Linked DNA regions of Homo sapiens. The protein of the gene in region 2 purifies or fractionates together with the protein of the main gene of each other region. This does not show direct contact. Each region holds a gene or a part of one and is shown on either strand. Other genes may lie near its edges.

Region 1 (3,811 bases), on a different chromosome or scaffold from region 2:
AAATGCACACACACAGGCACACATCCACACACAAACGTACATACCCACAAATGCACACATGCACACAAATGTACACACCCACGCATGCACACCCACACCCACATGCACACCCACACCCACATGGACACACCCACGCATGTACACACCCACACACACATATATTCACACACCAAAATGTACACACCGTGTGCACACACCCACACAAGCACACATATCCACACACAAATGTCCACATATCCACAAATGTCCACACATCCACAAATGTACATACCCACGCATGCACACATGCACACACATTCACATGCATGCACACCCATGCAGGTGCACACCACATACACCCGCACCCACCCACTTGTGCACACCCACAACCCACACACACACACCGCCATGGGCAGGGAAAACCCAAGGCTGCCTCCTGTTCCCGGCTCTCGCTGACTGTGTGCCCTGGGCAGGTCCCCTGGCTCTCTAAGCCCCTAAGTCTGCAGCCCAGCAGGTCTGGCCCACCTCTGGGGGTGGGGACTGAGTGAAGGCCATCTTGCTGGTAGCCCAGGCTCCCAGCATGGCGCAGTCACTATCCCTGCCCTGCTGCAGGACAAACCTGCCTGGGTTATGCCATCTGAGACCTGCAAGGGGCAGTCACTTCCTCCACCTGCTCGAGGGACGAAAGGCCCGGGCATCTCACTGCTATGACCCAGAACTTTCAGAGGCAGGTCGGGCCAGGCCAGGCCCCGGATTCAGACCACTCTCTTGTCCTAGCACGGCCCAGCCATGCTGTGTGCCTGCAGACAACTTGCCTGACCTGTCTGAGCCAGTCACTGAATGAGGCCCAGCCTGACCGGTCCAGGGCCTATAATTGCTGTCTCCCCCATGTCCTTGGTGGCGCCTTCTGGGCAGTTTGGGGTAGGGCTTGAGTCCAGGTGGGGCGGGGTGGGGTAGGGCGGGGGGTGGCGGTGAGCTCGCCTGCGTGGGTGATGGAGGTGCCAGCACTGTTACTTAGGGATGGCTGACTTGGGCCTTCCTGGAGTTGGAAAGGACAAAGGGATCAGAGGGAGATTCTCATTTGGGTGAGTCTGTGCAAAAACTCAAGAGTCCCCCCTCAACCCCAGGAGGCTAGAAGTCCTTGAAGTGGGGGCAGGAAGCCGTCTTTGTTGTGTGAGGGTGCTGGACATGGACAGCCTGACCCAAGAGCCCTAGAAGGGCCGTCCCTGCACCTGGCCCAGACACCCTGTGACTCCAAGAACCACCCAGCTCCAAGGCGAGGCCCCACCTTGGGAGCCTCCCCCAGGACCTGCTGTGTTTCCACCAAAGAAAGGACTTGGGCACTCTTCCACCCAGGGGCCGTGGGTGGTCCCCTCCGTGAGGTCAGAGCAGCTTGGGAACATGGGTGTCTACCCACAGGCTCACCTGCCTGCCCCACCCAGCTCAGGCGGCTGTTCTTTGCAGAGCACACAATGTTTGGAGGACATTTAGCCTGGGGCTGGCAGTCGGGGTCAAGTGGGAGGACTCATTGTGCCCGGAACACAAGTCCCTGTTTCCCTGGATGTGGCCCAATGCAGCTGTTTGCCACCCAGCCCGCGCCGCTGGAGCAAGCAGGTGGTCTGGACAGTCAGGAAGGTTTGTGGGTACAGGGTTAAAGCCCAGCCTTTGTCTGCCTGAGCCGGCCCTAGGCAGAAAAGTCCAATGGTCTGAGCTGCAGCCCCCAGCCCTGGGCCCCAGGCGCTGTGCCCAACGGGCTGCCGCCTCTTGGACTGGCCTCGTCTTTCCTTCTCTGATAAGCTCACGTCATCCCCGGCCCCCGGCCTGCGCCCTGGCCCTGAGAACGCCGTACTCTTCTTGCCTCCTAGGAAGCCTGGCTTCAGGTGGGAGGGGCCAGAGAGGCCAAGAAGGGGTGCTCGGCAGTTAAACATGGGGTGGCCCACCTTGGGTGGAATCTGGGGCCAGCCACCTGCTCGTGCCTCAGTTTCTCCATCTCTACAGGGAGTGACAGTCTCAGTTTGATTCCAAGGGGTAGCCCCGTGGAGAGGTGGGCCCAGGCAGCGTTCGCTGGGGTTCTGACCCCTGGCCCATGCAGCAGGTAACCCGACTGTTCTGCAGCCCCCGGGCTGTCCTCTACAAGACCCCCAGTCAGGCCCCGAGGGACCCCACCCTGGGCTTACCGAGGCGATGTCGATCCCCATCGATGGCTGGCCAGGGTTCTCTGGGGGGGACTGGGGGAGAGAGGACGGTACCGTGACTGCAAGCGGGGGCGGCTGTGGCCCACGAGTCAGGCTGGCGCTGGGCAACAGGGGGCCACCAGGGGGCAGGCGGACGGGCGCCTGTGGGGGTGGCGGGGGTGGTGGCTGCTGGGACGCGGGTGGAGGAGGCGGCGGGGGCTGGGGCTGCGGCGGTGGCTGCTGGGAGCCCGCCTGGGTGAAGAAGGCGTAGGGCAGCTGCTGCTCCAGAGACAGGGCGTCCATGGCTACAGCCTGCAGGAGAGGAGAGCGTCAGGCAGGGCGGGCCCTGGTTGTCAGCGCCTGGCCCCCTCGGGCCCCCATAGCCTGGCATGCTCAGCAGGCGAGGTGGAAGGGCCCTGTGATCACAGGCAGCCCCTGGGCTGGGTGCTCCTCACGATGAGGGAGCCCAGGCTAGAGAGGGTGGGCCTCACGCAGGGCCCCAAGGGGGTCAGCTGGAGCTGGGCAGGACCTGACCTCCTCCAGCTTGTTGTGCCTGCACCCGCACTACATGCCGTGCAGCTCAGGCCAGTCCACCAGCTGCAGGGCAAGCCCAGGATGGCCATCCCTGGTGGCTCAGTGAGCAGCCAGCTCCCAGCCCCTGTGGGTGCTGCGGGGAAACCTCAAGTGATCCACTGGCCTTGCCTTCCCAAACCCCCCCGCCCAAAGCCTTGCCCACTCTGGGGATGCTGGAGAGGCTGGGGTTGCTGGAGATACCAGCATGGCCCCTCACCAAGGGCTGGCTCAGGCCTTCGCAGAGCTGGAAAGAGGAAAATCAATAAGAGGGAAGTGTGTGACGTTCACTGTCTGTGTGGAAACTCACAGCCAGGGGCTACCAAGCTGACAGTCCTTGGGAAAGGTGGGGTCCCTGCCCTCTAAGAAAGGCTGAGCGTGCCCAGGAGCTATGGAACAAAAACCACTTAGCAGGATGCCCGGCCTCTGAGGACCAGTGGGTCATTTGTGAAGAGAAAGGAGTTTCCAGATAGAGGGAAGGGGCAGGTGTCAGATTAAGACAGCCTAGCTCACAAAGTGGCTGAAGACACAGCTGCCAGGAGCCAGCGCCCACAGCTCTGTCTGGATCTTGATCTGAATAAGACACCTTTGTAAGCAGACAGGAGACATGGGGGCCGAGGGGCGGGGAGAAATGGAGTCCGGGCCGGGCATTGCCAGGTACCAAGGAACTACCATTAACTTCGTTGTAGGTGGACAATGCCACTGTGGTTACATTAAAAACAAACAAGTGACGGGCGCGGTGGCTCACACCTGCAATCCCAGCACTTCGGAAAGCTGAGACAGGGTGATCACTTGAGGTTGGGAGTTTGAGACCAGCCTGGTCAACAAGACGAAACTCTGTCTCTACTAAAAATACAAAACTCAGCTGGGCATGGTAGGCACATGCCTGTAATCCCAGCTACTTGGGAGGCTAGCACGAAAATCGCTTGAACCTGGGAGGCAGAGGCTGCAGGAGAGCCAAGAGCACGCCACTGCACTCCAGCCTGGGCGACAGAGTGAGACTCTGTCTCAAAAAAAAAATTAAATTAAAATTAAAAAATAAAAAAATTTTAAAAATGTCAAAGTTCTCTGTTAGGGTTTTTTTGTTT
Region 2 (3,811 bases):
GGCGGCCGTGGCACTGTACCGCATGCGTCCAGCGCTTTGCGCTCCCCTCTCCAAACCGGACCTTGGGTTTGCTGTCCTCCGACCAGCTGAAACTTGGGTGAGCCCCAGGGGGTCACACAAGCGAGCCCAGGCGCATAGGCCAACAGCGCCACGAGCTCAGCCAAAGCTTCGAAGCCCACTCTTAACCAGCGGGGACCAGAAGTCAGATTCTCATTTTAGAGGTAGAAGACAATAAAATGAGAAGTTTTATCCGATACAATTGCATACCAATATTTGCATATCTGAAGGGAATTGGGTAACAAAAGTTTAGGGAAGGAGAAGGGGGGAGCTCCATGATATTATATTAATTTTTGTATTCTCTCTCCCCCCTCCAAAAAATTCCCATAACTTTGGTCTTTTATCTTTGACTTTAATAAAATAATGATTCCTTGAGAAAATGGGGTATAAATCTTCATTTTGGAGGCAATTAAAGTGTTGATTTCATTCATGCCCCTAAGCGATTCTTGTAATTTGCTCAAATAGCTTTATGTACCCAGCACTCCGGAGCTTTTAGAATCCCATTTTCCAGTTAGGCTTGTTGGATTGCAATTTTTATTCCACAGCAGCTACTCGAGGGTTCCTCAGCAGAATCGGCACTCAACAGCTCCCGGGCCAGGGCTGGCGGGCTGAACCAGACGTGAGGCCCGGGCCGCCCGCGGGGGCCAAGGCTGGGAGCCGCCTGCAGTTTTCCCACTTCTGTGGGGCCGCACTGGGATTGCGCACGCTGCGTGTTCTGTGCAATGGACTACACTGCCGAAAGTTTCCAACTCTCCAGATCACAGTGCGGACCCGGCGCATTGGCACTTTTAAATCTCTGCTCTGCCTGTTTCTCGCTCCCCATGGGCAAAAGAGGAATTCAGCCCATGTCGCGGGGATTGCCCAGAGAAAATCAAGCTGAGAATGTATTTTAAGAGGATGATGTTGAGAGAAGAAAACCATAAGATGACACTAAGAACCAGGCGTCAGGCGCTCGACAAGGACTGTACAAGACAGCCACTGGCCAACAGAGATCATGGCAGAGCTTGCAGAGTAGCTGGCCTTTGGCTTAACAAAGGCAGGCTGATCTCTTCCCCCAAATCTGGACTCACGTGCCGAGTCAGAAAGAGAAACAACACTGGGACTTCACTTATATAGGGGGGAAGGGTGGGAGGGTGCAGAGCAGGCCAGCTACCCAAATCTCTAGACGCCTTGCAACAATTCGCAACGGAACTGTTCTGAGCCCTGTTTCATCTCACTCACTCTACACGTTTTCACTTTCATTGCATTTTTGCAACTCCTTTGGACCAATCCAGAGATACAGCCACAGGAGAGAGAGAGGCACCCTGGGAGCAAACGGTGGTGTTGGGGTGACAGAGAGAGAGAAATCCCCACAGCAATTCCAAATAAAAGTCGTCCCCACTTAGTAACGCATCGGAAGAAGGGCCTGGAGGGAAGACAGGAGAGGAGAGGGTGCAGCAAGCCAAGGCCCTCAGTTGAGAGCAAAGGCGGTGCGAGGTCCCCCACACTCCTTACCCAGGGAGCCGCCGGGGTGCCCCTGATGCTGATATGTCCACAAGCTGCCAACCCAGAGGGCCCAGAGCACATACCAGCTGGAGGATGAGTGGAAAGAAGGAGGAGAAAAGTCCATATTTATCTGTTTTTATAACCTCGGCCTGGTCTTATTTTTTCTATTAAGTACAATAAAATGGGTGAGCTTGCAGTGAACACCACACAAAGCAATGTTCAGTGAGGTCTAGAAGCGTTCGGCCGAGGAAAACTGACAAGACAGGCTAATGAACCGTACAGACAGGGAGAAAATAGCCAGCATTTGCTAGATTTCAAACTCTCGCTGTCTTTCTTAGACCACCTATCTTGGATTTATTCCTAATAAAATAAGAAATAAGCAGACCCTACACTTGTCTTTTCTTGAAGATAGAAGGGGGAAAAATGCTCCGGAACAAAGCCCCTACAATCAGAGGCGGTCACTGGCAGTTAACACTCCCATTATTATAGAGGGTAAATAAAATAAAGACAAAAATTAAAAGCGACAAGAAACAGGTCAAGTTTGCTAGCAAAGCTTTTACAAGCTCATCTCTTCAGGTCGAATCCCAGAGCCAGCCTTAATGAAGCAATAATAGCCACATTATTCAAAAATTTTCATTTCGATGGAAATGTATCTAAAAGGGACTTAATCATATGCAAATAATAAAAGGAGGTGGTAGTGACCCAGCAAGCAATATGCATACAGATTTTTTTTTTTCCCAGGGATGTTGAAATTGAAAAGCGCATACCTGGTCAGTTAGATTTGCTGATCTTGTTATATCTTCACTGTCTGATTTTGATCCTCCTTCTCTATCGTCTATCACCAAATCGATAGGCATTTTCCCTTTCAAACAGCTAATATACCGGTGGCAGAAATTGTCACATAATTCGTGTACCTACATTATGACAGAAATAAAAAAATGGGAATATAATCAGGAGTGCATAAATGACATTGACAAGTGCAATCCACCCCCCTTGTGAGATCCAAACTTCCAAATAGGGGAAACACAGGGCAATTGTCCTCCAGAGACCCCCAGACGCATCCAGAATTAGGAATAACTTTCTTTTCTTGCAAAATAGAGATATCCCAGAAAATTGACAGTGACAAGATGATTCACAGGCTACAACATATTCAACACCCGTGTTAAATTCATCTGCTCCTGGGGCTGTGGTCATTAGAGAGGTGACCTGCGTAGGTGACATTTAAGGTAAACTATTTAATTTCATCCAGTGACTTTATCATAAATCCCTTTCTAATGTGTCTAAGAAAAAAATGTATACGTGTGTATATATGCACATATATATTCTCCAAAGAACCTGTACTGTGGTGGCATAGGATAAATGCCTGACAACCCAAGTCCTTATTATATTTGTAATGAAGGTTTTTATCTCTAAGGGGTATATTTTAGAAAACTTTCTTTGAAAAAAAAATGGAAGGAAATCAAGTTGCCAGTACTCCTGATATGGGAAAACATACAGCCACACAAAAACATATCAAATTGATTTTTTTTTTTTTTTTTTTTTTTTACAAAAAGGAGAAGGAATGCCTCAAAATATTTAAGTGTAAGTGCAGAGGTTTCCTAGAGGTCCCAGGCATCACTGACATGCAAAAATTCACAAGAAACCCCAGTGTGCTTGCAATTTAATGTTAGTTTGAATTACAATGCATTAAGTTTTTATTGCTGAGATTTATAGAACAGCTAGCAAAATCATGTTATCCCACACCCTTTCTTGAGTGTGAAGGTGGAGTGTGTGCAGGATTCACAGATTCAAGAAATTGACACAACTATCAACTCTGCTTTGTCTCTGCAAAACGTTTAATGTGCCTCCCCACCACCTCCTCCAGACTCCTTCCCGCTCCTCCTCCTTCTCCCCTTCTGCCTCTCCCCTGTGTCTGATCTGCCCTTGCTCTCAAGACTGTCTTCCAGAAACTCACTACAACTGAATAAAACTTTTTTCTCCCTCAGAGGTAGCAAAGAAGAGAAGGAAGAGGATGAGAAGAGACAACAGAGGTATGAACTTGTGAAACAACCTCAGAGCAGCATTCGAAACATCAGCTGGGATGCACAGAATTGCAACTATTTACACAAAGCCAGCAAGTTATTAAGAATGAACACAAGGCTAGGGCGTTTGTGATCCCAGTTTTAGTGGCTGAAATTGTAATTAAACTGCGAAGAGAAATGGACGCTAAGATTGGCCTTGACACTAATTACCAGAAAGAAAGACATTTATGCAAATGTATCAGAAGGCT

Evidence for each region.
Region 1: the proteins of MEIS1 (region 2) and CRTC1 purify together in Homo sapiens (affinity purification with western blotting; one study listed by BioGRID and IntAct). This does not show direct contact.

What each region holds. Positions count from the first base shown.
Region 1 is NC_000019.10:18,767,139-18,770,949, reverse strand, and holds part of CRTC1 (CREB-regulated transcription coactivator 1), read right to left. Parts: intron 2,466-3,811; coding exon 2,157-2,465; intron 1-2,156. UniProt on the Homo sapiens protein: Transcriptional coactivator for CREB1 which activates transcription through both consensus and variant cAMP response element (CRE) sites.
Region 2 is NC_000002.12:66,441,547-66,445,357, reverse strand, and holds part of MEIS1 (homeobox protein Meis1), read right to left. Parts: intron 2,457-3,811; coding exon 2,310-2,456; intron 1-2,309. UniProt on the Homo sapiens protein: Acts as a transcriptional regulator of PAX6. Acts as a transcriptional activator of PF4 in complex with PBX1 or PBX2. Required for hematopoiesis, megakaryocyte lineage development and vascular patterning.